7 linked regions of the Homo sapiens genome follow. The protein of the gene in region 1 purifies or fractionates together with the protein of each later gene. This does not show direct contact. Each region holds a gene or a part of one and is shown in the gene's direction. Other genes may lie near its edges. The genes, in order: HTR6, XPOT, CAND2, EXOC2, XPO4, COPG2 and TBCD.

Region 1 (4,168 bases):
AAATGACTTGTTCATTTTGCCTCCCTGACTTGAATATAAGCTCCAGGAGGGTCACACATATTGAGATCAGTTTTTTTGCTTTTTTTTTTGTTTTTGTTTTTGTTTTTTTTGAGACGGAGTCTCGCTCTGTTGCCCAGGCTGGAGGGCAGTGGTGCGATCTTGGCTCACTGCAACCTCTGCCTCATGGGTTTAAGCGATTCTTCTGCCTCAGCCTCCTGAGTAGCTGGGATTACAGGCACCCACCACTATACCAGGCTAACTTTTGTATTTTTGGTAGAGATGGGGTTTCACCATATTGGCCAGGTTGGTCTTGAACTCCTGATCGAGGTCAGTTTTGATCCCCACTGTGCATAGTAGGTCCCATCTTGTTTCAGTGCCTGGGAATGGGGTAGGTGCTCTTAGCTCAAGGCCTTGCATTGTCTATAAGTGAGTGCCTGCTCTTGCCATCCAGGCCACAGTGCACCTGACTCCTATTGACCCCCTGGAGGGGTGGGTGTGTAGACCGACCAGGCCTGAGACCCAGTGACTTAGGTCGCAGGTCTTGAGGAAAGTCCCAGCTGGGCTCTTTTGGTGTAGCCCTGAGTGGTGAAAGCTCTAGGAGGGTGGGGGTTGCATTGGAGGTCACTGGGCACATGGGGACTTGGCAGAGGGGTGAAAGGCTAACACCCTCCTTGGCAGTCCCCCAGACAAGCTTGCCTGTCCCACCCAGGTGGGTGAGGCCCAAAGTTGCCCCTGCCTATCACCTGGGGTGGGGGCAGGGCCCCACATGGACTGGGAGTCCTGGCTGCCGCCCAGCTCCTTCTCCCTATCCCTGCTCCCTGTAGAACATTCTTGAGTCTTGGCAGGTGGCTGGGACTCTGACTTGCTTCTTCAGGGGTGGGATGGCTGCCTTAGGCCATATACCCTGGGTTCTTGCTTTTTGTTGTTGTTATTGTTGTTTTTTAAGAGACAGGGTCTTGCTCTGTCACCCAGGCTGGAGGGCTGGAATGTAGTGGCGTGATTATAGCTCACTGCAGCTTAGAATTGATCATAGCTCATTCCAGCCTGAAGAGCTGGTATGCACTGGCCCGATCATAACTCACTGAACTCTTGGGCTCAAGCGATCCTCCTGTCTTGGCCTCCCAAAGTGCTAGGGTTACAGGCTTCCCTGGGTTCTTGAAAAGGAGTGTTTCACAAGCTTCAGGCATTCAAGAACTGCCTGCGGATATCTTCCTTAATGCCTCTTCCACCACCACCTCCACACCTTAAGCCACTTAATTCACATGCACTTGGCATTTTATTTATTTATTTATTAGACACAGGGTCTCACTATATTGCCCAGGCTGGCCTCGAGCTCCCACTTCAGCCTCCCGAGTAGCTGGAATTGCAGGTGCATGCCCCCGTGCCTGGCATTCTTGACATTTTCTTTAAATCATCTCTTTTATATTTTTACTTCCACAAATTTGTGTAGAAAGAAAACTTCGTATCTCCTCTAGAAATGGAAAATCTGTATCCTTTGCCATAAATAGAAGGTGATCACAAACACCACTTCAGTGAAACTGAAGAAGCTCCAGCCCTATCACTGAAATGCAGCTTGGTGTGGTTGAGGTGATGAGCCTAGGGCCTGCTTTCTCTTTGTAGCGTGCTAGAAGGTATTACAAACATGGTAGCATCAACGTGGGACTTTCTCTTGACGCACCTAGAAGAGCTGGAAGACAGCTGTAATGGGCTGACGTGCTCACTCTGTGATTCACTCATTTTATGGGGTGTCCCTTTACCATCTAAAATCATCTCCATTCCCACAGTTCAGGAAGCTCTGCTCTCGTGACTAAGGATGTGAGAAGTTGGCTGGTCTGGGTGAGGTTGGGGCGGGAGAGATCAGGATTCCTAGTTGCAGCGGTGCCAGTACCACACAGATTTTCTTTCCATGAATCTCGCTGGCTGGTACTAGGATTGAACCTGAGTCTGTGGTCTTGGAACCTGGGCAGGAGTCTCCCAGGTGCTAACAGCTGCAGCCCCACAATCTGTGAGCACTCACTCTGTACCAGGCACTGAGCTAAACTTATTAATTCCCCAAACACCCAATGAGTCAAGTACTACCAGCACCCCTGTTAGACAGGTGGGGAAACTGAGGCTCAGAGCGAGAGGTGACTTGCCCAAGATTGCACAGTTGGTAAGTGAGGTTTAAGCTCGGATCTGGCTGGTGCCATCGCCCTGTGCTGGTGTGCTGCCTGTGGGCAGTGATGCTCTTGAAATGCTTTGCTCGGGGACCCCACACCTTGCCCCTTTTCTTCTCTGTGCCTTCTGGTCTTCTCTGTTGGGTCCTCCTGATCCGCCTGAGCCATGGCATCCCTAGTCCTCAGTCCTCGGAGCATCTCGTCCTTTTTCCACATTTGCCCCGTTAGTGACCTCATCTTGTCTCGTAACTGAAAATACCACCCACACGCTGATGACTTCCTACCTGGGCTGCTTACAGGCACGTGCTGCCACGCCCAGCTAATTTTTGTATTTTTAGTAGAGACAGGGTTTCACCATGTTGGCCAGGCTGGTCTCGAACTCCTGACCTTACGTGATCTGCTAGCCTCGGCCTCCCAAAGTGCTGGGATTACAGGCGTGAGCCACTGCGCCTGGCCCTGACTTCCTGATTCCGCTCTTCCTCCCTTTCAACCTTCCGCAGTGGCCCCAATGATCCCCTTTACAATGCAGTTCCTGCTGCATCATTCCTCTGCTCTGGCAGCCTTGTGTCTCACATCACCTGGCCCTCTGACCCTATCTGGCCTCCTCTCCTTCTATAATCCTGCTTGTTTCTTCTCTTTCAGCCATACTGGCCTCCTTGCTGTTCCTTGAACACACCAAGCCCATTCTGCCTCACTTGCGGTTCCTTCTGCTTGGAGTGCCCTTTCTTCAGGTCTCCACCCTGTTCTCCCACTAATTTCCATCATTTCCTTCCAGCCTCTGTTGAATTGCCTCCCCTAATCCCTCTCTCAAGAGTAGCACCTCTCACCCTCCCCAGGTCCTCTCCAGTCCTCATTTCCTAAGTTATTTCTCTCAGCAGCACCTCCTACCCCCTGACGTGTTCTATACCTACCCATTTTTATTTATTTACTGTTTATTTCCTTCTTCTAGAATTTAGGCCTATGAGGGTGGGGAACTTGTTTTTCTGCCTTTTTTTTTTTTTTTGAGACAGAGTCTCACTTTCTCGCCCAGGCTGGAGTGCAGTGGCGTGATCTTGGCCCACTGCAACCTCCGCTTCCCAGGTTCAAGCAATTCTCCTGCCTCAGCCTCCGGAGTAGCTGGGCTATAGGTGCACATCGCCACACCGGGCTAATTTTTTGTATTTTAGTAGAGATGGGGTTTCACTGTGTTGCCCAGGCTGGTCTTGAAACCCTGAGCTCAGGCAATCCACCCGCCTTGGCTTTCCAAAGTGCTAGGATTACAGGCGTGAGCTACCATGCCTGGCCTGTCTTTCTGTTTTCCCCCATGGTCCCAGGAATTAGGGGCACCTGGCACATCATGGGTGCTCAGTATGTATTGATGGAAGGAATGCAGTGTACACAGTGCTTCAGGGAGCCTGGTATTCCAGCCCTGTTTGTGCGGTTGCCTGTTTTCTCATGCCTTTCAGAGTCACTTCTTGAGTGTCATGATCCTGAACTTTTTATCGTGTGAATTCATTTGCTTGGTGACATGTATTGACACCTGCTTTGCACAGCAGCTGTTCTAGGCTGTGTATGTAGTGGTGAACGAGACCAACAGTGCCTGCCCTCTTGAAATCTGTTCTAGTTAGGAGTACAGACATTAATCATCAAACTGTACCACGATGAGGATTATGGAGCTTATAGGAGGGATGCTTCACCCAGCAAACATTCAAAATCTATTATTCACTGTGTATGTTTGAAGATGAAAGCAAAGCACTCACACCAAGCCCTAAAGTGAAAGGCTGGAGGGGTCTTCATGGGTTGGTTAGGCCAGCGCCTTACTTCTAAGGCAGAGTGACTCAGGGGCCTCTCAAGCCAGAAATGTGTCTGTTCTAATCCCCCCGCTTTCTGGAAAGCCCATTCTCTTGGTTTGAACGTGACGTGTGCAAATTCTGCCTCTGTTCCTGCTTTCAAATCCACTCGGCTCCTTAAGTAAGCCTCCTGCAGGCCGTTTTCCTGATTGCCTGGTGAACGGCCTGCACTTTGGGAAAATG
Region 2 (4,168 bases), on another chromosome or scaffold:
GTTTGAGACCAGCCTAGGCAACATAGTGAGACCTCATCTCTACAAAAATTTTTTTAAAAAATTAGCCAGGCATGATTGCGCGCTTCTGTATTCCCAGCTACTGGGGAAGCTGAGGCCAGGAGGTTGAGGCTCCAGTGAGCCATGATGGTGCCACTGCACTTCAGCCTGGGCAATACAGCAAGACCTTGTCTCAAAAAAAAAAAAAAAAATGAAAATCCAGATATTTCACAGAAAAATCTAGATTTCCAGCTTTTCTGGAAAAGTCAGAATATCTGGTAACACCAGGCCTGTTTTTCTACATGACAATTCTCTCTTAGAGTTAAGTAGCTGCATGGGCACTTGTGTTCAGAATCTCTGACTTACTAATTAAGCAAAATAACAAATCACTACTGAGAGGATTCCTAGTTCACCTATTGGTTTATTCTGTAGATCACAGACCACAAAACATTTTCATTCGAAAAATTGTGTAGCCATCATTTGTTTCAACATGAACAGAATCACAAATTAAAGATTGATATTGATGCCCTACCTGCCACTCTTGTCCTTATCTTTAAAGCAATGATGAGTGGCATTATCAGTTTATGTTAGGGAACTTCAGATAATTGAGAGCTATACAAATTTTCCCTTTCAAATATATGAGGCTGTTATTTTTTACAACCATAGACACCAAATATAGCCATTATTCTTTTTCTTCTCTATTTTGAACAGATACTCAGAACTAACCACTGTTCAACAACAGCTAATTAGGGAGACGCTCATATCATGGCTGCAAGCTCAGGTAAAATCATAATTTCATTCAGTACCTCAAATTATTAGATATTTAAACTTATTTTTTGCAAGAGTTTGGAACTTTACCTCAAAGATTTTCATCAGTGTTCCTCCATTTGATTTCATAGCTTTTTTAAAAGGTGCTGGTTTTAAAGATCATGGAAGTGGTAGTTTAGCAATAATTTAATATTATATCAATGACTGAAATGGTCATAGTTTCCATGACACATTGTGGAAACTTTGGTTTTAAAATGTAGTTGTTTTTAACTACTTGACAAATGCTGCTTTCTGTTTGGCTCTTAAAGGTGAGCCCTCCTGGACAGCCTCTCCACCAGAGCCCTTTATAAAGGGCCAGTTGAGTTCTTTTCAGTTAATTTTAGCTAATCTTAACACATAAAGCAGTTGTGTAGCTAGAGTTTTCATTTTCCTTAAAGAGCAAGTAGAGGAAAATTTTTTTTTCTTCTTAGAAGAAATTATAGGAACTATTAAAACTCTGCACATGAAACTTTTCTGTCAAAGTGTAAGAATGAGGAATAATCATTACAGCCTTTAATGGTTCATTTAATTGTTCTTCATCTGGTCAATCACTTAAATACTTTTGATAATTTTGATAATCATAATTATCAAAATAATTTTGAAGAGTATTTGTTGCATAGTTTATCTGGGCCATGTTGACATTTGATGAAACTTTGCCTTTTAATAAGACAACTGGTGTTTCTGGGTCTTTTCAATTTACATTTAATTTTATGGACTGTTTCTCTGTTTGTCAGATGCTGAATCCCCAACCAGAGAAGACCTTTATACGAAATAAAGCCGCCCAAGTCTTCGCCTTGCTTTTTGTTACAGAGTATCTCACTAAGTGGCCCAAGTTTTTTTTTGACATTCTCTCAGTAGTGGACCTAAATCCAAGGGGAGTAGATCTCTACCTGCGAATCCTCATGGCTATTGATTCAGAGTTGGTGGATCGTGATGTGGTGCATACATCAGAGGCAAGTAACTAACCATGAATTTTTTATATTTAATGTAAGTTTTGTAGGTGATAATGGGCACATAATAAAAAGAGCAGGGAAGTTTTCTTTCTTGAGGTAAACTTTCTTAAGTTATATAATTATAAATTTACCTGATGTTTTGGATTTTATTTTATGAAGGAACTCAAACTTGGTTATTTTTTTTCCAGAGGTATATTGAAATTAAAGTATTACATTACATTTTTTATTTTTTTACTTTTTTGAGACGGAGTCTTGCTCTGTTCCCCAGGCTGGAGTGCAGTGGCACAGTCTTGGCTCACTGCAACCTCCGCCTCCTGGGTTCAAGCGATTCTCCCACCTCAGCCTCCCTAGTAGCTGGGATTATAGGCACATGCCACCACGCCTGGCTAATTTTTGTATTTTTTGTAGAGATTGGGTTTCGCCAGGCTGTGCTCAAACTCCTGACTTCAGGTGATCCGCCCGCCTTGCCCTCCCAAAGTGTGGGGATTACAGGCATGAGCCACTGCGCCCAGCCTAAATTTTTTTTAACTAGGCAAATACTGTAGTGACATACACGAGTTGATTTTCTTTTATGAATCTGTTGAGAAAGGTAGTCTCAATTTAATACTGCTATATAGTCCCTGAGCAAGGAAGAAGCATTGCTTAGGAGTTGTCCGTGTTGCTACTTCTGTATTCTTCATCACATAGTGTAAGTACTATGTTACTATATTGAGAAATAACTTAAAATATGCTTAAGATTTCTAAGCAGTGCTTTTTATAGTTTGTATTTACTAAGAAATTAACTCTGACACTGAGGAGTAGAACAGAAAGAGGAAATACAAAGAATCACAGGATATGATCTTAGAGCTGGTAAATAGGAAATACTGGTAGGGAATGTGTTAACAAGTCTGAAAGTTTACTCTCTGCAAGTATATTCAGATATCAAACATGATTTTGTAAGGTAATCTACTTTGCATTTGGCGTTTTGTATTTTAGGAGGCTCGTAGGAATACTCTCATAAAAGATACCATGAGGGAACAGTGCATTCCAAATCTGGTGGAATCATGGTACCAAATATTACAAAATTATCAGTTTACTAATTCTGAAGTGACGTGTCAGTGCCTTGAAGTAGTTGGGGCTTATGTCTCTTGGATAGACTTATCCCTTATAGCCAATGATAGGTAAGTATGCCTATTATTTTTATAGTATAAACTTGTAAAATACAGTATCTAAAACTCATGACTTTGAAAATGTTACAATTTTATTGTCCCATTACCAGGTTTATAAATATGCTGCTAGGTCATATGTCAATAGAAGTTCTACGGGAAGAAGCATGTGACTGTTTATTTGAAGTTGTAAATAAAGGAATGGACCCTGTTGATAAAATGAAACTAGTGGAATCTTTGTGTCAAGTATTACAGTCTGCTGGGTTTTTCAGCATTGACCAGGTTGGTAAATTTATATAAAACATTGTATGTAAAGTTGTTAGAACAAACTGGGATAGGTACTAAGTTAAATATAATAATAGCTTTTTTTCTTCTAAATGTTATAAACTCCCCTTGAGATTATAATATAAACCACTGCATCTAGCCAAAATGTTCTCAGTAGCATTCTCCTTGGAGAATGGGTTATACCAGTTCTTAAACCTGAAAGCCTGTAATTGCACATTTCTCACAAACTCTTAGGAGATGCTGACACAACTTGTTCATAGTGGAATTGAGATTTTTTGTTTTGTTTTGTTTTTTGAGATGGAGTCTCACTCTGTTGCCCAGGCTGGAGTGCAGTGGCACAGTCTCGGCTCACTGCAACCTCCGTCTCCCGGGTTCAAGTGATTCTCCTGTCTCAGCCTTCCGAGTAGCTGAGATTACAGGCGCATGCCACTACACCCGGCAAATTTTTTACCTTTTTGGTAGAGACGGGGTTTCACCATGTTGGCCAGGCTTGTCTCGAACTCTTGACCTCAGGTAATCCACCCACTTCGGCCTTCCAGAGTGCTGGGATTACAGGCATAAGCCACCGTGCCCAGCCTGGAATTGTTAAATATATGACGTCATTTTAAAATTGAATCCTGTAATTAGCACTTGATTCATATTAAAGTTCAGTTTTTCCTCTTAGCTTGGGCAGGCAGTTTTAAACAGAGATGTGTCTTGATTGCTTATAGGAAGAAGATGTTGACTTCCTGGCCAGATTTTCTAAGTTGGTAAATGGAATGGGACAGTCATTGATAGTTAGTTGGAGTAAATTAATTAAGAATGGGGATATTAAGAATGCTCAAGAGGCACTACAAGCTATTGAAACAAAAGTGGCACTGATGTTGCAGCTACTAATTCATGAGGATGATGATATTTCTTCTAATATTATTGGATTTTGTTACGATTATCTTCATATTTTGAAACAGGTAAGTTTTTGTTTTATTCTTTTTGCTCAATACA
Region 3 (4,168 bases), on another chromosome or scaffold:
TATTGAGTACTGTAGGCAGTTGTAACAGAGTGGTATTTGTGTGTCTAAACATAGAAAAGGTACAGTAAAAATAAGGTAGAAAAGATTAAAATGGCATGCCTGTATAGGGCAGCTCCATTAAAATCTTTTTTTTTTTTTTTTTTGGAGACGGAGTCTCTCTCTGTCGCCCAGGCTGGAGTACAGTGGCATGATCTTGGCTCACTGCAAGCTCCGCCTCCCGGGTTCACGCCATTCTCCTGCTTCAGCCTCCCAAGTAGCTGGGACTACAGGCGCCCGCCACCACACCTGGCTAATTTTTTGTATTTTGTTTAGTAGAGACTGGGTTTCACCATGTTAGCCAGGATGGTCTTGATCTCCTGACCTCGTGATCTGCCCACCTCGGCCTCCCAAAGTGCTGGGATTACAGGCGTGAGCCATTGCGCCCGGCCAGCTCCATTATAATCTTATGGGACAACCATTGTATATGTTGCCTGTCACTTACCAAAACATCATTATGTGACACAGGACTGCATTTGACCTCGAATCTTTGTATTAAGGTCTACTTCTAGGGGAACCCTGAGGTACTGCCCAAATCCACCAGGGCCCAGGAGCTGCTCAGCAATCTCCTCCACCCTCCCTGTGCAGGTTCATGGCCACCAGCGACCTGATGTCGGAGTTGCAGAAGGACTCCATCCAGCTGGACGAGGACAGCGAGCGCAAGGTGGTGAAGATGCTGCTCCGGCTCCTGGAGGACAAGAACGGTGAGGTGCAGAACCTGGCTGTCAAGTGGTGAGTGTCAGCCTCGGTGGAGCAGGAGAGGGGGCCCTACCTTGTGTGGGAGCATCCTGGGGACCGCTGTCCCTTTGGGGTACAGCCTCGCAGAGGAGACCTGCTGAGCAGCTCTCGTTGAATGGTACCTTAGTCTGAGTTTTCCCAGAAGATGCTGAGACAAGGATTCAAATCTAAGTTTATTTGGGAGGCGCTCCCAGGAAACATGGTAGAGGAGTAGGGAAGTGAGGCAGGAAAGGGAAGAGGACCAATCAAGGGTATGGTACGAAGCAAGTGACCACAGTGGGCCTGATGAGCTTAACCCCATGGGGACCTCTGGGACACAGTATAGGACATGTCCCTTGGACTTTTCCCACTCAAAGGGTAAGGGAGCTGGGGTATTAATCCACCAGCTCCCTGGTAGTCATTGGTTAAGGGCTGCTTCTGGGGTAGGATGGAGGGTTGTCCACTGCCTGCCACCTCCAGCCAGAGAAAGCCCTCAGACAGATGTAAATGCTGGGAAGGTCAAGCTGACACACATCAAGGTGGTAAAGGCTTAAAGGCTGGGTGCGGTGGCTCATGCCTGTAATCCCAGCACTTTGAGAGGCCAAGGCAGGTGGATCACCTGAGGTCAGGAGTTTGAGACCAGCCTGACCAACATGGTGAAACCCTGTCTCTACTAAATAATAATTAAAAAAAAAAAGTTGCCGGGCATGGTGGTGCGTGCCTGTAATCACAGCTACTTGGGAGGCTGAGGCAGGAGAATCGCTTGAACCCAGGAGGCAGAGATTGCAGTGAGCCAAGATTGCGCCATTGCACTCCAGCCTGGGCAACAAGAGCAAAAATTCCATCTCAAAAACAAACAAACAAAAAAGGCTTAGGGCACATGGGACTGGGAGAGGTCCTAAAAGCCCCAGCCTTAGATCACTGTGAGGCTGTGATCCTGAGACGTTGGCCAGTTATCTCGAGTAGAAAAAGACAAGACAAGGGTATGTGCAGAGCACGTGGGGATGCTTGTGTGGTAGGGTCATTCTCACACCCACACCTGAGAACCACTAGTGTAGGGCAGAGGTTGTCAAGCTTGACTGCAGGTTAGCATCACCTGGGTAATTTTAAATAGAATGCCAGGGATCAAGGGACAACAGGGTGAGAGAATTGGGCACTGTCTCTCAAACCACTGTCTGTGAGCTGGGTCCAGGCATTCTTCTGGGGCATGTTAATGAATTTGCAATGTGATCCCAAGAGCAGAGAGAATTCAGTAAAGGGTTTTATGTAGGAAGGTGACATGGACAAGTTTATGAGCTGGGAATGTCTTTCTGGTCATGGAGTAGACTTAGGATGGGTTTCACACCAGCAGAACCAATACCTTTTTATAACAAATAGTTTGTAATACCGTTTCCTATTAGGAAATGAAATTCATACATTATAAAACCTACCTCTACACATAATGCCCTAACCATAACCATAAAGGCAAACTAGAAGGAATGTAGTTTATAGTAATGTGTGTTTCCATGTATGCGTGCTTGGGCACTGTGATGGTAGAAGTGATGAAGTCACGAGAAGCCTGCATCTACACGTGAACTCATCATGAGTACAGATACAGACAGGGGGTGTTGGGGACTCAGGTTTCAGAATTGGAGGCCATTGCTCTTAGTGGCAAGATTTTCTTTTTTTTTTCTTCTTTTTTTTTTTTTTGAAACAGAGTCTCACTTTGTCACTCAGGCTGGAGTACAGTGGTGCAATCTCAGCTCACTGTGACCTCCCCCTCCCAGGTTCAAGCGATTCCCATGTCTCAGCCTCCTCAGTAGCTGACATTACAGGCATGCACCACCACACCCGGCTAATTTTTGTATTTTTAGTAGAGTCGGGGTTTTACCATGTTGGCCAGGCTGGTCTTGAACTCCTGACCTCAAGTGATCTGCCTGCCTAGGCCTCCCAAAGTGCTGGGATTACAGGCATGAGCCACCACACCCAGCCAGGATTTTCTAAAGTGAGTGACCATCTCCCAATAAAGTTTCCCAGAAAACAAAGTAGAATTTTCCTTCAATTTACCTGAAAATTGCATTCTTAGAAAATCTAAAATGTGGTATATTAAAACAATGTAAAAAAGTATTTTGTGTCTATGTATAAAATGAAATTTTAGACTCAGATAATTATAGAAAGGCCTTTTGCCTATACAAATGCCCATTGGGATGTTAGAACCTCTTGCGGGGCATGGACAGTGCTTTGTTTTACATTATTGTCTTTCTGCCGTTCCTGCTTCTCAACCCCTTAAAGGCCAGAAGTACTAACTCAATAGTTTTGATGACCAAGGACCCCCATAAATTGCCAAGGTGGTATTACTCCTAGTGGGAACCAGTGCTATAGGAGGTAGGATGGAGGACTCCATGATTACGTAGATAGAGGAGCTGTGGAGAAGGAAGTTGAGAGAACCAAGGTTTGAAAACCATGGTGCACATGCCTGTAGTCCTAGCTATTCTGGAGGCTGAGGCAAGAGGATCACTTGAGGCCAGCAGTTCAAGACCAGCCTGGGCAACATAGCGAGACACTGAAAAAAGAAATTAGCCAAGCATGGTGGCTTGAATATGTAATCTCATCTGTGTAGGAGGATCGCTTGAGCCCAGGAGTTTGAGGCTGCAGTGGGCTATGATCACGCCACTGTATTCCAGCCTGGGCAACAGAGCGAGACCTCATCTCAATAAAAATCAAGAAAAAAGAAAACCATTGTGCATTGCAGTCACCTGAAGCTCTTGTTGAAACCCTGTATTCCCTGCCCAGGGATTCAGATTCAGGGGATGGAGCAGGAAGGGAGCTGGGGCAGAGGATGAGACTATAGCACCCTGGAATCTGCATTCTGATGCACACCAATGTCTGAGAACCACTCAGGTAGGGCAGAGGTTGTCAGCCTCGACTGCATGTTAGAATCACCTGGGGAATTTTAAAAGCCCTCCCCCAACCCCCTCCAGGCCACATCTGAAACCAATTAACTGAGACTCTCTGAGGGCAGTGCCCAGGTAGGCATTTTTTAGAGGCCCAGGTGATGGCAACTAAGGCCAAGAACGAGGGCGTCTAGTGCCGCTGTTTTTACACTTTCCTGTGCATTGGAATCACCTGGGGACCTTGTGGCGCTACAGATCCTGGCTCAGTAGATCTAGGGTAGGGTAAGGCCTGAGATTCCACATCCTGAACAAGCTCCCGAGTGGCATTGCCAATGCTAACTCACCACCAAACTTTGAGAAGCAAGCCTCTAAGGCAGAGGTTCTCCAAGTGTGCTCCCTGGACCACCTACAGTATCAGCCTCAACTGGGAGCTTGCTAGAAATGCACACTATCAGGCCACACCTAGATATAGCCCTCCTGACTCTGAAACTCTGGAGGTGGGGCCCAGCCATCTGTTTAAACAAGCCCGCCAGGGGATTCAG
Region 4 (4,168 bases), on another chromosome or scaffold:
GCCTAGGCTGAAGTACAGTGGCGAGATCTCTGCTCAGTGCAAGCTCTGCCTCCCGGGTTCACGCCATTCTGCCGCCTCAGCCTCCCAAGTAGCTGGGACTACAGGCGCCCGTCACCACGCCCGACTAACTTTTTGTATTTTTAGTAGAGACGGGGTTTCACCGTCGCGATCCTCGTGACGGTGGACCTCGTGATCCACCCACCTCGGCCTCCCAGAGTGCTGGGATTACAGGCGTGAACCCCTGCGCCGGGCCGGGAAATTATGAATCTTAAAGCGATGGGTGACACACGCATCGGCATCCTTCAATCTCAGTTTGTTTATTGATTGAAAGGGGGTCTTGTTCTGTCACCCAGGCTAGAGTGCAGTGGCACAGTCACAACACACTGCAGCCTTGAGCGCCATGATTCCAGAAATCCTTCTACCTCAGCCTCCCAAGTAGCTGGGACTATAGGTGCGTGCCACCGGGTTCGGCTCATTTTAAAAATTATTTGTGGAGGTGAGGTCTTCCTACGTTGCCCAGGCTGGTCTTGAACTCCTGAATGCAAGTGATGCGCTGGCCTCAGCTTCCCAGTGCTGGGACTATAGGTGTGACCCACTGTGCCTGGCTGATCTCAATTTGAAAATCACAGAGTCAAAAGGTATTTTTGGCTTAGGCGTCAAAGCAACTATACACTGGTCCTTGGTCTAATCTGGTCTGCTTCATAGTACTGGCTGAGTTGCTTAGATGCTTTGGACTGTTTCCTTTTTTGTGTATTCAGAGAATACATGCAGTTAGATTATCTCTGAAATCCTTCCTGCCTTGAAATTTTCCAACTCAGTGAATCCTATAACCACCTAGCACTTGTCTTATAGCACTTGTGTTGTGTTAGGGACAATATTATTAATGGTGTTTACATACACCAGTAAAAGACTAAGCTCATTCTGGATCGGGATTAGTTTTAATTATTTTTGTATCTTCCAGTCTTACTGTATGCCTGACACATATATTAAAAATCAAATAATATTAGCCTGGATTCATAAGGGGTATTTTTGCCCTCTCAATTAAAGAATAGCTAAGAACTAAACTCTGTAGTATTGAGTGTAAGTCCAGCAGAAGCTCAGAGGTAGGAAGGATCCGTTGGGGCTAGAGTAATTGGGAAGCTTTGATGATAAGAGCTTGATGAAGGAAGGCGTGTGAACACCTGGGCTGCATACCAGGAGCAAAGGCCCAGGGGCTGGTAAGTGAGTGCATTTTGGATTATGGGTGGAGTGCCTTGACTGACAGGCAGAAGAGTTTGGAACTGATTTGTTAGACAGTTCTTTTTTGTTGTTTGTTTTTCCTGGAAAGTTTTATTAGGCCAGCTCAAAAGCTTCCTGAACATCCTTTACCTTAATTCCCTTGGTAGCATTTCAGATTAAAAATACATCATCCAGTTTGCTTTATTTTTGTTTTTGGGTTTATCAGTTTTTCTATGTAATATTTTCCACAGTAAATCTTGGTGCCAATAATGGAACGAACACTGGACACAGGACTGGGGAAGACTGGATTTCAGCTTAGGAGAAGGTGAGCTGCTCAGGGTGGATCCAGAGAGCTTCAAGACTAGTGCCCGGCACATCTTAAGCACTCAGTGACAAGTGCAGCGTTGAAGGCTTTTTTCCCTTTACTGCTTGCTAACAGTGCCACTTTGCACAAGGCTGCCCCTTCGTTTCATTTGTAAGCATGGATGAATTTTTAAAGGCCTTTTCTCATTTTAAAGGTTTGTGATTTTGGAGGGCATATGATTTAACTTTCATTGTATTATAATTTTAGCAAAAGACAAAACGAGACAAAAGGCCATGTTTGGCTTTAGTTTAATTTTAATGAAAACCCCATGTGAATGATAATGATGTATGTCTCAGCAGGAATCAGAAGTCATGCCAGATAGCTCAAATGAAGAAAGGTGCAGAGGGGATTAGGGAATATACAAGGAGTGGTGAGGAGCAAAGGGAAGCTAACAGTAACCAGAAAGGACAGAAGGAGAAAGTAGGGCTGTCTGGAGGAGGATCCGACTGTTGCCAGAGAAGTAGTGCTGGGGGCTGGAAGAGTAACACCGAACTGCCTCAGTGTTGGAACTGGTCCACTTCTGAAATCCAAAGTGCAGGCCTCCCACTGTTTGCTTATAGTCCCTCAACTTTCTCAGTCTCACTCACCCCCACTGCATCTATCAGGCGCTTCTGTGATCTTCAGTCACTGTCATGCCAGTGTGCTCAGTTGTATCGTTGTTGTTCTGTAGCATCTGCCTGGCAGCTTCTCAGCCTTGGGCAGTCTCAACTCTCTGCCTCCTGTAATGCTTGACCTGAGTTGCTGGGGCCAGCTGGGGAAAATCACAGTATCCAGATCTGTGCCCCTATAAATCCATGGTCACCAGCTCAGCTGGGCCATCAAGGAATCTTCCAGAATTTTCCTCATCAGTACCCGCTTCTTATCTCTGCAGAATGTACTTTTCAGCATTTTCACGCTTTTCGAACCTTTCATCCTTTCACATCATTTACACACACTCTTAGCAAGCGGTCTTGCCACCTACATCATAAATGAAAGAGATGTAAGTGGAGAATCGCAGGGGCTTCCTGCCAAAAACTGTTCCTCCTCCCCAGTCACAGTGGAAGAGGTTGTATTTATGCTAAGACCAATCTCCTACCTGGGCTGTGGATCCCATCTACCCCGCCTTTGTGAGGACTTCACTCAGGTGTTCATGTCTTACTAAAGCCTTCCTTCTGTTGGCCTTTATACATGCTTAGAGACAGACAAGAATAAAGTAAAACAGAAAAAACTAGAATCCTCCCTTGATTTCACATTGCCCTTTTAAAATTCCTCTCTTTTTCACTTTCCTGCCACATTTCTTAAAATAGTTGTTTGTAGCCAACTTCTCACCCATCCCAGTGCTGTCTGGTTTCAGCTACGATCACTCTCCTGAAGGCCAAAGTCATTCTTGAGCTTCTGGTCACAAAATCTTGTTCCTGTCATTTCTTCAGGGTAATGCCTGGGACATAGCAAGTGTATAATAAACATTTATTTGACTGAATAAATCCAAGGATGTTTCCTTTTCACAGCCCTAGTTTTTCTGTTTTTCTGGGGTATAGGAGTCCAATACTGTCATCTTTTGAGGATCTGGGTGACTAGTCATTGTATCGCAAATCATCTTGACGGACTAGGTAAAGATACAAATAAATATTATTTGAGGATAAGTTCAGTGGCTCAGTGCCTGTAATCCCAGCACTTTGAGAGGCCGAGGTGGAAGGATAGCTTGAGCCCAGGAGTTTGAGACCAGCCTGGGCAACATAATGAGGCCCCTTTTCTACAAAAATTAGAAAAAAGTTAGCCGAGTGTGGTGGTACATGTCTGTGGTCCCAGTTACTCAGGAGGCTGAAGTGGGAGGATCACTTGAGCCTGGATCACCTGAGGCTGCAGTGAGCTATGATTGCACCACTGCACTCCAGCAGCCTGGGTGACTGAGTGAGACCCTGTCTCAAAAAAAAAAAAAAAAAAAAAAAGAATATTATTTGATAATGACTTCTTCAATCTTGTTCAGGTGATCTGTCTTTCTGGGAAAATAAAACCCTGACATCTTTTTTTCTGAAAAACTATACTTCCTAAAATACTAAGACTTACTGTTTTTATCTATGCATATAGATCTAATAAGAGTAGTAGGGCATTGGGTACTACTGGCAATAGATTTGTGAATAAATAATGCTGTGCTCTTGTATGAAACTCTTTTGTTTTCCTATTAAGTAGTGTATCTTCTTTGAAGTTTTTGTCTTCATTTATTTGTTGGGGGTGGATGGAGGGGGATGAATTTGCACTGGCCTGGTTCATTTTTGACATGTCATCAATGTCCAGTGGCATCGGTTGGAAGTCCAGTCACCTTTAGACCTGCAGCCTTTCCCTGTGCAACATAGTGACAGTCCTTGTCCTCTAGGAGGAGACATGGCATGCTAAGGCAGAGGGCTTTATGGTTCCTGGGGGAATAAAGCAGACCTCTAAGTAACTTTTCCAATTAAGATAGAATCCAGTGCTTGTTTTATGAGAACAGCTGAGTAATCCGGTATATATATAACAGATCTCTTTTATGGGGGCTCTGAGAGCTAAGTTGTCAGGCATTCCCTATATACTTGTCTGGCTTCCAGTATTCCTTCCTAGTCATCTCATGCA
Region 5 (4,586 bases), on another chromosome or scaffold:
GAAGCCACTACCATTTTTTAGGTGATGGGGATGCCACTGAGTTGCAACGGCTAGACCTTTTCAGGGTGGTTGTGTCCATGTTTGCCTGATTGGATGCTTATTCACTTTGTGTTTTCTTTTGTTTTATTTTGTCCAATTTTGTCTTTAGCTGTGTTTATTAACTTCTCCGGTCTTGTTTTGTTTTAATGCTCTTGGCCCAGTGGGTGTCAAGAACACTGGCTTAATTCAAGTCAGTTGATTTTTTTTCTATTAAAACTGTTGTTAAAATATTTTTTAAAACAAAAACATTATTTGTGCCCTCTTTTATATATGTCAAAGGGACACTGTCAAGTATTTCATTTTTAGATTTTTGTTTTATAAAATTTCTGTTGTTCATATAGTATCCTTTAACCTCTAGTTTTCCATACATCCTTTGTTTGTTTCTCATTTTATTTTCCTTGACCCATTTATTTCCCAAGGCACAATCACTAAAGACTTTGTACTTTCACAGTCTGTTAATGTGGTAGCACCTGTAACTGTGTTCTTGTTCTGTTAAAAGGATTGATTTGCTTTTATAGTCCTTGTGCTGGATGAGTGGCTGCCTCAGTAGCAAAACTACCTGACAGTATTTGACAGTGTCCTTTCCAGCACCATTATTTGGGTCTTTCAGGGTGGCCATCTCTGTTAGAAGACAGTAGCATGTTAACATCACTGCATTGAGTTTTTGTCTGGTGTAAAGTATGACTTTTAATGTAAACAAACTGCAGGTTTTTTTCAAACTAATTTTAAGAATTTAGTCTTATTTCGTTGTAAACTGTGTATCTAATTATATTACATTACTCTGTTCAGATGGGATGGTTACTACCACTTGTCCATGATTTTCATTTGAAAAGCAAGTATCTATATCATTTCCCCCCAGTCAGCATTATTTAACACTCCCCTTAACTGTCTTTGAACTTTCTCTTTTAACAAAAATGTCAAGTCTTTATAGTTGTAATATCACCATGTTTCCCATTTCTGTTAATACTTCTATGAACCCCTAAAGTATTGAAGGGAACTAGCTGTCAGTTTCAAGGATTACAAGTTTGAGTCTCCTAGTATTCAACATCATTCTGAACCCTGAAATAATATTTTTCTCTGTTAAACAATTTTTATCTGTTTGCCACCTCTGTTGTTAGAGGTGGTTGTCAATTGACCTTACTAAGTTAGCTGTCTTTGATGAGGAATTATTGTTATTGGTTCCTGAATAAAACATTAACCTTTTAAGTCAGAAGGAACCTCGGTACTTCTTAAGGTTTGTTTGTGTTTTCTAAAACCAGAGAATAAGGAACTGATTTGGCTATGAGGTTTAACATTATAATTTTCTGTAAGCTTTCCCACAAAAAAACATTGTTGATTTGAGGATATAATAATGTTTTAATCTTTTTAAAATATAAGTGGTTATTCTCTGACTTGGTAACTATGTTCTGAAAACACTGCATTTAAGAATTTTTAAAAATTGGTTTTCTAAAATTAAAATGTCCAAATTAGGCATATTGCTGAGCTCAAATTGATGTGAAATGCCATGGTTCCAGTTGAATTTTAAGCATATTTTCATTTAGATATAAAATATATGAAGTATGCTTTGTTGATTATAGTGAGAACCCATGACATAGTTAACCAAAGAATATGTTTGGTTCAAATAAAAATAGAAGCTTAATACTGGGCATTCATACTTTTTAAAGAGAATGAATGAAGAAATCGGTTTCCTGCTGTAGTTCTCTATGGGTAAGTCTTAGTAAAGACGAGAATGCTGAAGTCGGCCGTGGCGATTCCCTCCTAGGAACTGGGAGGTGTGGCTTGCCCATTACCCGCTTGAAGCTCACATCTTTACCCTCCTCTCCCACTGTGGTTTGATCTTCACCTATTCCCAGGCCCTCCCAGCAATTGGAGAGGTGTCTTTTTTTTTGGTTTTGGTTTTTTTTCTCCCCGTCTGCATTCTTAGGCCTCTTAGCTATTAGGAACTGTCAGATACATACTAGTAGCTAATTTTCCTAGCCTGAAATTATATACTGCATCTGCACTATGTACCTACTAGGGATCTGACCTCAAGTGTTTTCTGAGCCCAGGCTTCCTGGTGTGGTGTCTTTTACCACATAAAATTATTACAAATTGCAAATGTTGGTATTGTGATTTGATTATCTGTACAAAGAAAGAAGCTCTATGCAGTGAGTTTGTGGTTTAATGGTCACAAAAATGTTAGCACTGCTACCACTCAGCACGTGTAAAATTTTTTAAATTTATAAATATTAAAATTTTAAACTTACACTAAGACTTTTCAGTTTTATTTAAAGACCCAGGGATGAGTGTACTGTTTAAATATTTACCTCTATTAACATAACTAATGAAGGTATAAAATTGCATTTAGTTTTTCAGAAGATGCTGCAATATGATTTTAGGAAATAAGGCTATGTATTGAGCCAGTTATAGGCTGAATATCAGGTTGATAAAATTTTATTTGTATTTTTAAAATTCATAAATGGGAGTTAAAATGTGTCTTTTCACTAAATATTTTTATTACATTTTTGTTTTGACCATGTGTGATTTGTTCATGGGTATTTAGCTAGACTCTTTTATGAAATGCATTGAAATGGTGCTAGTTTGTTTACCATTATAGGAAGATTGACACTGGGGACATTACACGGTCCTAAAATAATTTTAAATTTAAAAAAATGAAGACATCTGTACAGATAAAAATCAAGATTTGCATCACCTTCTGGGAGAACCCGTGGTACTCACAGAATATCCAGTATTAGAAATATAAAAATTTTGTCTATATTTTATAATATTTATCTCAGCCCACAGTCTTAGAAACAGTTTCACAGTTACTAGTTAAGTCATTATCTTTGGTGCATATTTAGTAAATACTTTTAGCAAGTCATTCTTTTTGGCCTTTCAGGGAAAGTGGTGAATTACCATATTACTGTGTGCTAGATAGATCCACCCTTTGCCCAGTGTTAAATCTTGTAAACATATGAAGTGAAAAGTTAATTTTTAAAGAAAATGCATCTTTAAAATGTTCATTTTTAACCTGAATTTGCTTTGAATATTCTTTGATTTGTAATGTTGTTATTTAGCTTATATTGAGATTTATTCCACTCCAAAGGTGGATAAAGAAAAGTTGTTTAAGAAAACCAATTAGAGTGTATTTTGAATTTTTGTTTCTTTCATTACCAAGTGTGGGGCCATACACACAGGCTAATCATCTGTCATTTGAGACCCACAGATGATTTCAAAGGTCCCAAATAAATACACATCTATAACTGTTTTTTAAAAGACATCTTTAATGGTGCTCTCCAAAAATACAATTCGGTTGCTTATGAGTGATGCCTTTGACAGGCTGATTAGATTATAAAACAGTTTTGTTTTTTTAAACATAGGGTCTCAGATTGAGTCTTGTGCATTCTATGTAATCTCAAATGGCAGTTCAGTTTGACTTTCTTTTAAAACTAAGTGGAAATGGTATATTTGGTGAAACTAATGAAAGAATCTTTTGCTGGGAAATTCCATACAGCACCCCCAGCAGCATCCTGTCTCAGTCTGGCGTATAATTCAACCTCCTACTGAGTGTCCCTGTAAATTATTTTTAATATATAGCATGAGAGTGAACTGAGGTAAGTCATTGATGTTTCCCAGAGATGATGAATGAACAAAAGCAAATAGGATCTGCTAAACATTTTTATTCCCACAGTAGTGAGCAGTTTTGTTCTTGTTTTGATAATGTTCATTTCTGCCTAATCTTAGGCTTCAAATACACCTTTAAGAAAGCCCAAGATGTATTGAGTAGTAGAACTTCTTATTTGTACACCTGTTTATAACTGCACTGCCCTGGATGTTATGGTTATTTCTAAGGACTGACCTGGTAAAGCTACTTGAACTGGTAGACTGCAGGGTAGAGGCAGACCTAGATTCAATGTCTAACTAAGCTGCTTAGGGCTTACATTAATTTCCACAGGTCTGTTATCCATATCATGAGTTTATAAGTGTTCCTCCCAAAGAAAAAATTTAAAAGTGATGGATGAAATATAATAGTAGATGCTCAATAAATTCCATTGTATTTAAAGATTATTTCTGAAAACAGATTTCATTTCATTAGACAAATGTATCATAACACTAAGTCTGATACCTAATAGTCAATTGCTTTTAAATACATGCTGTAATATCTTCATATTGATACTACGTTATAGCCCTAACCACAACCACCCTAGGGATATTGGGGTAGACTTCACCATATTATTTACTGTACTTTTTTTTAAAAAATGAGAAAATGGATCTATTTATGTTAACTATCTTAGTCTGTTCTATTTAATTCAACTATCTTACTCTGTGCTATTAGAATACCTGAGACTGAAGAACAGAAACTTACTTCTTTCATTTCTGGAGGCTGCCCTTTGACTTCCATCATGTGGAAGAGGCAAGCAAGCCATCACCAGATGGTGGCGAGAGAGAATCAACTCCCTCCTTCAAGCCCCTTTGTAATGGGACCTAATTTTATTCATTAGGGAGGAACTCTCTTGGCCTAATCACCTCTTAAAGGCCCCACCTCTTCATACTGGCACATTGGCAAC
Region 6 (4,168 bases), on another chromosome or scaffold:
GGTTGGTGGATTCTTTTTTTTGAGACAGAGTTTCGCTCCTGTTGCCCAGGCTGGAGTGCAATGGCGCGATCTTGGCTCACCGCAACGTCCGTCTCCCAGGTTCAAGTGATTCTCCTGTGTCAGCCTCCCGAGTAGCTGGGACTACAGGCATCCACCACCATGCCCAGCTAATTTTTGTATTTTTAGTAGAGACAGGGTCACCATGTTGGCCAGGCTGGTCTCAAACTCCTGACCTCGTGATCTGCCTGCCTCGGCCTCCCAAAGTGCTGAGATTACAGGTGTGAGTCACCGCACCTAGCCCTCTTACATTCAGTGTTATTACTGAGATGTGAGTGAGGTACTATTCTATTCATCATGCTAGTTGTAGCCTGAATACCTTGTTTTTTATTTTTCATTGTGTTATTGTTTTATAGGCCCTGTGAGATTTTTTTCTTTAAGGAGGTTCTATTTTGGTGTATTTCAAGGTTTTGTTTCAAGATTTAGGACTCCTTCTACAGTTATTGTAGTGCTGGCTTGGTGGTGGCGAATTCTCTCAGCATCTGTTTATCTGAAAAGAACTTTATCTTTCCTTCATTTATGAAGCTTAGTTTCACTGGATACAAAATTCTTGGCTGATAATTATTTTTTTTAAGGAGGCTATCGATAGGACCCCAGTCCCTTCTAGTTTGTAGGGTTTCTGCTGAGAAATCTGCTGTTAATCTGGTAGGTTTTCCTTTATAGCTTACCTGATGCTTGTGCCTCACAGCTCTTAAGATTCTTTCCTTCATCTTGACTTTAGATAATCTGATGACTAAATGCATAGGTGATGATCTTTTTGTGATGAATTTTCTGGCTGTTCTTTGAGCTTCTTGTATTTGGATGTCTAGGTCTCTTGCAAGGCCGGGGAAGTTTTCCTTGATTATTCCTTCAAATAAGTTTTCCAAACTTTTAGATTTATCTTCTTCCTTGGGAACACCAGTTATTCTTAGGTTTGGTCATTTAGCATAATCTCAAACTTCTTGGTACCACCCAGTTGGTAGTTTTTTTATCCTCATCCTCTCCCACCCTACACCCTCAAGTAGGCTCCAGTGCCTATTGTTCCCTTCTTTGTGACCATGTGCACTCAATGTTTAGCTTCCCTTATAAGTGAAAACATGCAGTATTTGGTTTTCTGTCCCTGTGTTAATTTGCTTAGGATAATGGCCTCCAGCTCTATCGATGTTGCTGCAATGGACATAATCTCATTCATTTTTATGGCTGCATAGTATTCCATGGTGTATATGTACTACGTTTTCTTCATCCAGTCCACTGTTGTTGGGTATCTAGGTTGATTCCATGTCTTTGCTATTGTGTGTAGTGGTGCAGTGAACATAGGAGGGCCTGTGTCTTTATGGTAGAACTGTTAGTCCAAACTGTACCATTTTGTAAGCCCCTTGTCATTTCATAGACCTTGATCAAAGTGAAACATTCCTTGGGGGACTGGGCCGTGAGAAACATCCTGCCCGACTGCCTGACTTTCTTATCACATTCTGCTGGGAAAAAGTCCAAGGAACATCACTGTCACATCCTGCCAGAACAAGGGCCAAACCACCTCATCATGGGAACATCTTATCAACATCCTCCCGGGCAGCAAGCCATAACCCTCAGACCCCTCCCTCCCAGGCCTAAAATTGCCCCAGCCTGTAAGCAGAGGTGGGCCCTGGCATTAAGCTGGTGCCCCGCCTCTGCAGGTCTTATGCTGGACATAAAACCTGCATTGCTGTAGAGCCGCCAACTCTCTCTCAGTCTTTCTTTAATCCTCGCCTTCTCATCAAAACCTAAGAAGAACAATTCATATTCCTTCGGGTTCGTATTTAGTAATGGGATTGCTGGATTGAATGGTAGTTCTGAGGTCTTTGAGAAATCTCCAAACTGCTTTCCACAGTGGCTGAACTAATTTGCATTCCCAACAGCAGTGTGTAAGCATTCCCTTTTCTCTGCAACCTCACCAGCATCTGTTACTTTTTGACTTTTTAATAATAGCTATTCTGACTGGTACAAGATGGTACCAAGCATATGAAAAAATGGTCAACATCACTAATCATTAGAGAAATGCAAATCGAAACCACAATGAGATACAATTTCACACCAGTCAGAATGACTATTTTTATGCTTTCAACAGTTTCACTCTGATGTGTATATATTTGAATATTTTTGTATTTATTCTGCTTGAGACTTTTTGAGCCTCTTGGGTACATAAATTAATGTTTTTTCTAAATCAAACTTATGAGGTTTTCAGCCATGGTTTCTTCTTATGTTCTTTTTCCCCTTTGTGTCTCTCTTTTCCTATGAAAACTCCTATCATCCAAAATGTTGGTACCCTTGGTCATGTTACACAGGTCTCCAAAGCACTGTTCATTTTTCTTCCTTCTTTTTTTATTTTCATCAGCTGGTTTATCTCAGTAGATCTACAAGTTTTCTTATTCTTTCATCTGCCTGTGCAAGTCTGCTATTGAACTTTTTCTGGTGAATTTTTCATTCCAGTCATTGCACTTTGCAAATCTAGAATTTCTATTTGGTTTCTTAAAAAAAAAAATCATTTCTGTCACTTTATTGGTAGTCTCATAAGACATCTTGTTGTACTTCCCTTTAAATTAAATATTTTAGTTTCCTTTAGTTCTTTGAACATATTTATATTAGCTGACTTAAAGTTTTTGCCAGTAAGTTCAACATCTGGGCTTCCTCAGGAATAAATTCTATTGACTACTTTTTTTCCCCCATAGATGGGTCATAGTTAAGTATTTCTTTGTGTGTCTCATAATTATTTTGTCAGAAACATTATATTTTAAATATTATAATGTGACAACACTGGTAATCAGACCTTCCCTTTCCCTATCCCTGGGGTTTGTTGTTTTTGTTGTTGTTTGTGACCTTCCTGGACTATTTCTGTAGTCTTTATTCTGTATCTTGTATAGACACTGAAGTCTTTGTTTGATTAGCTGAGTCACAAATAATAATTTGACAGATTTTCTTAAATGCTTTAAACCAGTATGTCTCCCATCATTTTCCAACGGGTGCTGTGTATGTTGGGGCGTGCTTTCCATGCCCCGGGAGTTCACAGCTCTGCCTTAGCCTTCACTTCCTGCTTTGTGCAGAGCCTCAGAGTCAAGCAAAGGTTAGAGAGCGGAGCTCTGTCAGGTCTTTAGTGGCTGTTTGCTTAGCCCTGCACATGCACATGACCTTCTGTATCCCCAGAAATATTTTAGAAATTTTCAAAGCCCCCTAAGGACATCTCATTTCTCAAATTTTCCTTTTAAGTTTTTTGGCCAGCCTCTTGTTTGCCCCTGCTAAAATTGCTGCTTCTGGCAGCTGCAAGATTAACCAAATACTACTGATTTTTTTGGACAAACTCCCTGGGCATAGGGCTTTTCATGCTGAATGAGCTCTTGAGTCAGGTGAAGTAAAGATTAGCCTGTGAATAGGGCTTTTCTAGGAGCACCAGACAGGTCACATAGTGACAGTTCTCTGGGGATGAGATTTTGGCCCAGAGCTGCTTTTGTAGCTAGGCTGCTGGCATTCACAGTTACTGTGGTTCTGAGGCTGCTGGTTTCCAAGACTGCTATGGAACTGGGAAGAGGTGCATGGAAATTGAGAATGAGTAGGTTAAAACACCAGAAACTTCACCATTTTTACTAAGATTCAGCTACTTTTCTTAAATAGATGTTCAGGATTGTTGCAAATCTTTGATTAATTTTTTAGAGTTCTGCAAAAGTTGATTTTGACAATTTTGCCAGTGTTCTAATTGCTTTGTGATGAAATGAATTTTTAGAAATCCCTCATCCACCATTCCAGAAGTGCCTCTCAATCTGCCTGTGCTTTTAATCCCTATGCATATTGCCTCTCTATTTGATATCTAAATAATGGCCTATAAATATTTATTGGCAGCCATGAAAGTCCACTGTTTGATTTCATTGAGAGCTGCTTGCGAAATAAACATGAAATGGTTATTTATGAAGCTGCTTCAGCTATCATCCATCTTCCTAACTGCACTGCAAGAGAGTTGGCACCTGCTGTTTCAGGTTTGTTTTATATTTGATGGCTGGCTTTTATGTTCCTAAGTTTTTGCTTTAAGTTTCATAGGTCTACAGAATAGGTATTAAGAATGTTTTCTGAACACTAGCTCTGTGTATATATAGCCTTTGCATTCTGA
Region 7 (4,168 bases), on another chromosome or scaffold:
GCTATCAAGATATGGAACATTTCTGTCATCCCAAGGAGTTACTTGATGTCCTTTTGCTGTCAGTCCCCTCACCCCAGCCCTAGGGAACCACTGTTGGTTAATGGTACTGTTCATTAGTTTTGCCTGTTCTAGAATCATTCAGTATGTGCTCTTTTTGTCTTCCGTTGTTAAAATAACATCTCCGGGACTTACCATTGTTGGTGTGTGTATCAGTAGTTTGTACGTTTTCTCTCGTGCTGATAAATCACAATTTGTTTCTTCTTTTTTTTTTTTGAGATGGAGTCTTGGTCTGTTGCCCAGGCTGGAGTGCGGTGGAGTGCAGTGGTGCGATCTCGGCTCACTGCAAGCTCTGCCACCCGGGTTCACGCCATTCTCCTGCCTCAGCCTCCCGAGTAGCTGGGACTACGGGTGCCCGCCAACACACCCAGCTAATTTTTTTTTTATTTTTAGTAGAGACGGGGTTTCACCTTGTTAACCAGGATGGTCTCGATCTCCTGACCTCGTGATCCGCCCGCCTCAGCCTTCCAAAGTGCTGGGGTTGTTTCTTCTTTTATCTGTTGATGGACATTTGAGTTGTTTCCGGTTTTTGGCTGTTATTAATAATGCTACTTTTTGGGAGGCTGAGGTGGGCAGATCATGAGGTCAGGAGATTGAGACTATCCTGGCTAACACGGTGAAACCCCATCTCTACTAAAAATACAAAAAATTAGCCCAGTGTGGCGGTGTGCGCATGTAGTCCCAGCTACTTGGGAGGCTGAGGCAGGAAAATTGCTTGAACCCGGGAGGTGGAGGTTGCAGTGAGCCGAGATCTTGCCACTGCACTCCAGCCTGGGTGATAGAGCGAGACTCCGTCTCAAAAAAAAAAAAAAAAAAAGTAATGCTACTGTGAAAATGTTTATGTACAAGTTTTTAGGTAGACAGAGGTTTTATTTTCTCTTGGGAAAATACGCATGTGTGGAATTGCTGAGTAGCAGAAAGTGTCTTACTTGTAGAAAGTGTATGACTTGGCCAGGCGCGGTGGCTCCTACCTGTAATTCTAGCACTTTGGGAGACTGAGGCAGGTGGATTGCCTGAGCTCAGGAGCTCAAGACCAGCCTGGGCAACATGGTAAAACCCCATCTCTACTAAAATACAAAAAATTAGCCGGGTGTGGTGGCAGGTGCCTGTAGTCCCAGCTACTCAGGAGGCTGAGGCACGAGAATTACTTGAATGTGGGAGGCAGAGGTTGCAGTAAGCTGAGATGACACCACTGCACTCCAGCCTGGGTCACAGAGTGAGACTCTGTCTCCAAAAAAAAAAAAAGTGTGTGACTCATCACCTGCCATACTGATGCCATGAAGATTGTACTGTTGACCATTTCTACCAACAAGGTATGAGGATTCCAGCTGCTCTGGGTTCTCTTCAGCACTCAGCGTTGCCAGTCTCTCTGATTTCAGGGAGTGTATCTCGTTGTGTCCTTCTCTGCGTTTCCCGGATGCCAGTTGCAGTTGTTTTCCATGTATGAAGACTTGCAGCCCAGCGTATGGTCTGTTTTGTTGAACATTCCGCGTGCACTTGAGAAAAATGTCTGTTCTGTTGTTGGGTAGATTGTTCTCTAAATGTCACGTAAGTAAGGTGGGTGATAGTGCTGTTTAGGTTTCAGCGATTTTCTCTTACTTGTTCTATCAGTTCCTGAAACAGGAGTGTCGAAGTTTTCAACCGTGTCTCCTTTCATTTCTCTCAGCTTCTTCTGTGCTTATTTTGAAGCTCTGTAGGTTGGTGTGTATACTTACAGAATTGTTAAGTCTTCATGATGAATTGATCCTTTTATTATCATGAAACATTCTGTTTATCTCTGATGGTAATGCTTGTTCTGACATTTACTTTGTCTGATATTAACAGAGCCACTCCAGCTCTTTTATGATTTGTGATTGGTTGGAATATCTTTTTCCTTTTGCTTACGTTTAACCTAGCTATGTCTTTTTGTTTGTTTTTGTTTTTTAAGAGACAGGGTTTTGGGCCAGGTGCGGTGGGCTCACACCTGTAATCCCATCACTTTGGGAGGCCGAGGTGGGTGGATCACCTGAGGTCAGGAGTTCGAGACCAGCCTGGCCAACATGGTGAAACCCCGTCTCTACTAAAAATACAAAAATTAGCCAGGCGTGGTGACGCGTGCCTGTAATTCCAGCTACTTGGGAATCTGAGGGAGGAGAATAGCCTGAACCCGGGAGGTGGAGGTTGCAGTGAGCTGAGATCACGCCACTGCACTCCAGCCTGGGGGACAGAGCAAGACTCTGTCTCAAAAAAAAAGAAAAAAAAGAGACGGGTTTTGCTCTGTTGCCCAGGCTGGAGTGCAATAGTAGGATCATAGCTCATTGCCGCCTTGAAATTCTGGCTTCAAATGATCCTCCCACCTTGGTCTCCCAAAGTGCTGGGAAAACAGGCATGAGCCACCACACCTGGCCGGCCTCAATGTCATGTTGATGTTCACTTTTACAGTAAATGTTTCCTATGTTTTTCCCTAGAATGGATGATGAACTTGTTGTTGGACATAGTGCAAGATCAGACATCTCCAGCTTCCCTTGTACATCTGGCTTTTAAATTTCTTTACATCATCACCAAGGTAACATTTCCATAGCACTTCAGAGTTGACAGATACTTTTGTAATATACTTGGTCCAGAGGTTACCCTCCAAAATGTTATTTCTCAAGAAAGATAGTTCTTAGACACAAGTTGTGGGTTTAATTCTGTCCCTTTTTACTGTATGTTGGGGATCAGAATTTAGTGATGTGGGCTCTTTGGCTGAAACAGTGTCAGGATATTCAGCATCTTGCATTTGAATAGATTGAAGCACTGTGTAGCTAGGAAGGGAATGGGGTGGAGATGAGACTAAATCAGAAAAACTTCTTACAAGGAGAAAGCAGGCCGGGTGCGGTGGCTCATGCCTGTAATCCCAGCACTTTGGGAGGCTGAGGCAGGTGGATCACCTGTGGTCAGGAGTTCGAGATGAGCCTGGCCAACATGGTGAAACCCCGTCTCTACTAAAAATACAAAAATTAGCTGGGCTTGGTGGCACATGACTGTAATCCCAGCTGCTTGGGAGGCTGAGGCGGGAGAATGGCTTGAACCTGAGAGGCAGAGGTTGCAGTGAGCCGAGATCATGCTGTTGCACTCCAGCCTGAGTGACAGAGCGAGACTCTGTGGAAATGGAAGTGCTTCTCACACTTTAATGTGCAGATGAATTTCCTGGGAATTTTGCTGTGCTATAGATTTTGAGCAAGTAGGTCTAGGCGGGGGTCTCATAGTCTGCTTTTCTTACAAGCTTGCGGGTGTCTGTGCTCATAGTCTGCTTTTCTTACAAGCTTGCGGGTGTCTGTGCTCATAGTCTGCTTTTCTTACAAGCTTGCGGGTGTCTGTGCTCATAGTCTGCTTTTCTTACAAGCTTGCGGGTGTCTGTGCTCATAGTCTGCTTTTCTTACAAGCTTGCGGGTGTCTGTGCTCATAGTCTGCTTTTCTTACAAGCTTGCGGGTGTCTGTGCTCATAGTCTGCTTTTCTTACAAGCTTGCGGGTGTCTGTGCTCATAGTCTGCTTTTCTTACAAGCTTGCGGGTGTCTGCTCATAGTCTGCTTTTCTTACAAGCTTGCGGGTGTCTGCTCATAGTCTGCTTTTCTTACAAGCTTGCGGGTGTCTGTGCTCATAGTCTGCTTTTCTTACAAGCTTGCGGGTGTCTGCTCATAGTCTGCTTTTCTTACAAGCTTGCGGGTGTCTGTGCTCATAGTCTGCTTTTCTTACAAGCTTGCGGGTGTCTGTGCTCATAGTCTGCTTTTCTTACAAGCTTGCGGGTGTCTGTGCTCATAGTCTGCTTTTCTTACAAGCTTGCGGGTGTCTGTGCTCATAGTCTGCTTTTCTTACAAGCTTGCGGGTGTCTGCTCATAGTCTGCTTTTCTTACAAGCTTGCGGGTGTCTGTGCTCATAGTCTGCTTTTCTTACAAGCTTGCGGGTGTCTGTGTGCTGGCCCAGAGGCTCACTGTTGGCAGTTTTGACTATGGAAGTACTCACAGCCGTCTCAGGGTGGGGCTTGGGGTTCGTAGTGGCGAGGCGCATTTCTGTTGTCTGGCGGGAAAGTCCTTGGCCAGCGAGAGGACACTGCGGGTGAGCTGCCAAGGACACGCAGGCCTCTGTAGCTCC

What was found.
Region 2: the proteins of HTR6 (region 1) and XPOT purify together in Homo sapiens (affinity purification with mass spectrometry, with the first as the bait; one large-scale study listed by BioGRID). This does not show direct contact.
Region 3: the proteins of HTR6 (region 1) and CAND2 purify together in Homo sapiens (affinity purification with mass spectrometry, with the first as the bait; one large-scale study listed by BioGRID). This does not show direct contact.
Region 4: the proteins of HTR6 (region 1) and EXOC2 purify together in Homo sapiens (affinity purification with mass spectrometry, with the first as the bait; one large-scale study listed by BioGRID). This does not show direct contact.
Region 5: the proteins of HTR6 (region 1) and XPO4 purify together in Homo sapiens (affinity purification with mass spectrometry, with the first as the bait; one large-scale study listed by BioGRID). This does not show direct contact.
Region 6: the proteins of HTR6 (region 1) and COPG2 purify together in Homo sapiens (affinity purification with mass spectrometry, with the first as the bait; one large-scale study listed by BioGRID). This does not show direct contact.
Region 7: the proteins of HTR6 (region 1) and TBCD purify together in Homo sapiens (affinity purification with mass spectrometry, with the first as the bait; one large-scale study listed by BioGRID). This does not show direct contact.

The regions. Positions count from the first base shown.
Region 1 is NC_000001.11:19,667,324-19,671,491, forward strand, and holds part of HTR6 (5-hydroxytryptamine receptor 6), read left to right. Parts: intron 1-4,168. UniProt on the Homo sapiens protein: G-protein coupled receptor for 5-hydroxytryptamine (serotonin), a biogenic hormone that functions as a neurotransmitter, a hormone and a mitogen. Also has a high affinity for tricyclic psychotropic drugs.
Region 2 is NC_000012.12:64,417,338-64,421,505, forward strand, and holds part of XPOT (exportin-T), read left to right. Parts: intron 1-708; coding exon 709-778; intron 779-1,538; coding exon 1,539-1,757; intron 1,758-2,732; coding exon 2,733-2,917; intron 2,918-3,015; coding exon 3,016-3,184; intron 3,185-3,897; coding exon 3,898-4,134; intron 4,135-4,168. UniProt on the Homo sapiens protein: Mediates the nuclear export of aminoacylated tRNAs. In the nucleus binds to tRNA and to the GTPase Ran in its active GTP-bound form. Docking of this trimeric complex to the nuclear pore complex (NPC) is mediated through binding to nucleoporins.
Region 3 is NC_000003.12:12,802,864-12,807,031, forward strand, and holds part of CAND2 (cullin-associated NEDD8-dissociated protein 2), read left to right. Parts: intron 1-624; coding exon 625-768; intron 769-4,168.
Region 4 is NC_000006.12:686,514-690,681, reverse strand, and holds part of EXOC2 (exocyst complex component 2), read left to right. Parts: intron 1-1,469; exon of another isoform or gene 1,470-1,543; intron 1,544-4,168. UniProt on the Homo sapiens protein: Component of the exocyst complex involved in the docking of exocytic vesicles with fusion sites on the plasma membrane.
Region 5 is NC_000013.11:20,776,829-20,781,414, reverse strand, and holds the end of XPO4 (exportin-4), read left to right. Parts: 3' UTR 1-4,086; downstream 4,087-4,586. UniProt on the Homo sapiens protein: Mediates the nuclear export of proteins (cargos), such as EIF5A, SMAD3 and isoform M2 of PKM (PKM2). In the nucleus binds cooperatively to its cargo and to the GTPase Ran in its active GTP-bound form.
Region 6 is NC_000007.14:130,564,129-130,568,296, reverse strand, and holds part of COPG2 (coatomer subunit gamma-2), read left to right. Parts: intron 1-3,903; coding exon 3,904-4,037; intron 4,038-4,168. UniProt on the Homo sapiens protein: The coatomer is a cytosolic protein complex that binds to dilysine motifs and reversibly associates with Golgi non-clathrin-coated vesicles, which further mediate biosynthetic protein transport from the ER, via the Golgi up to the trans Golgi network.
Region 7 is NC_000017.11:82,761,461-82,765,628, forward strand, and holds part of TBCD (tubulin-specific chaperone D), read left to right. Parts: intron 1-2,504; coding exon 2,505-2,602; intron 2,603-4,168.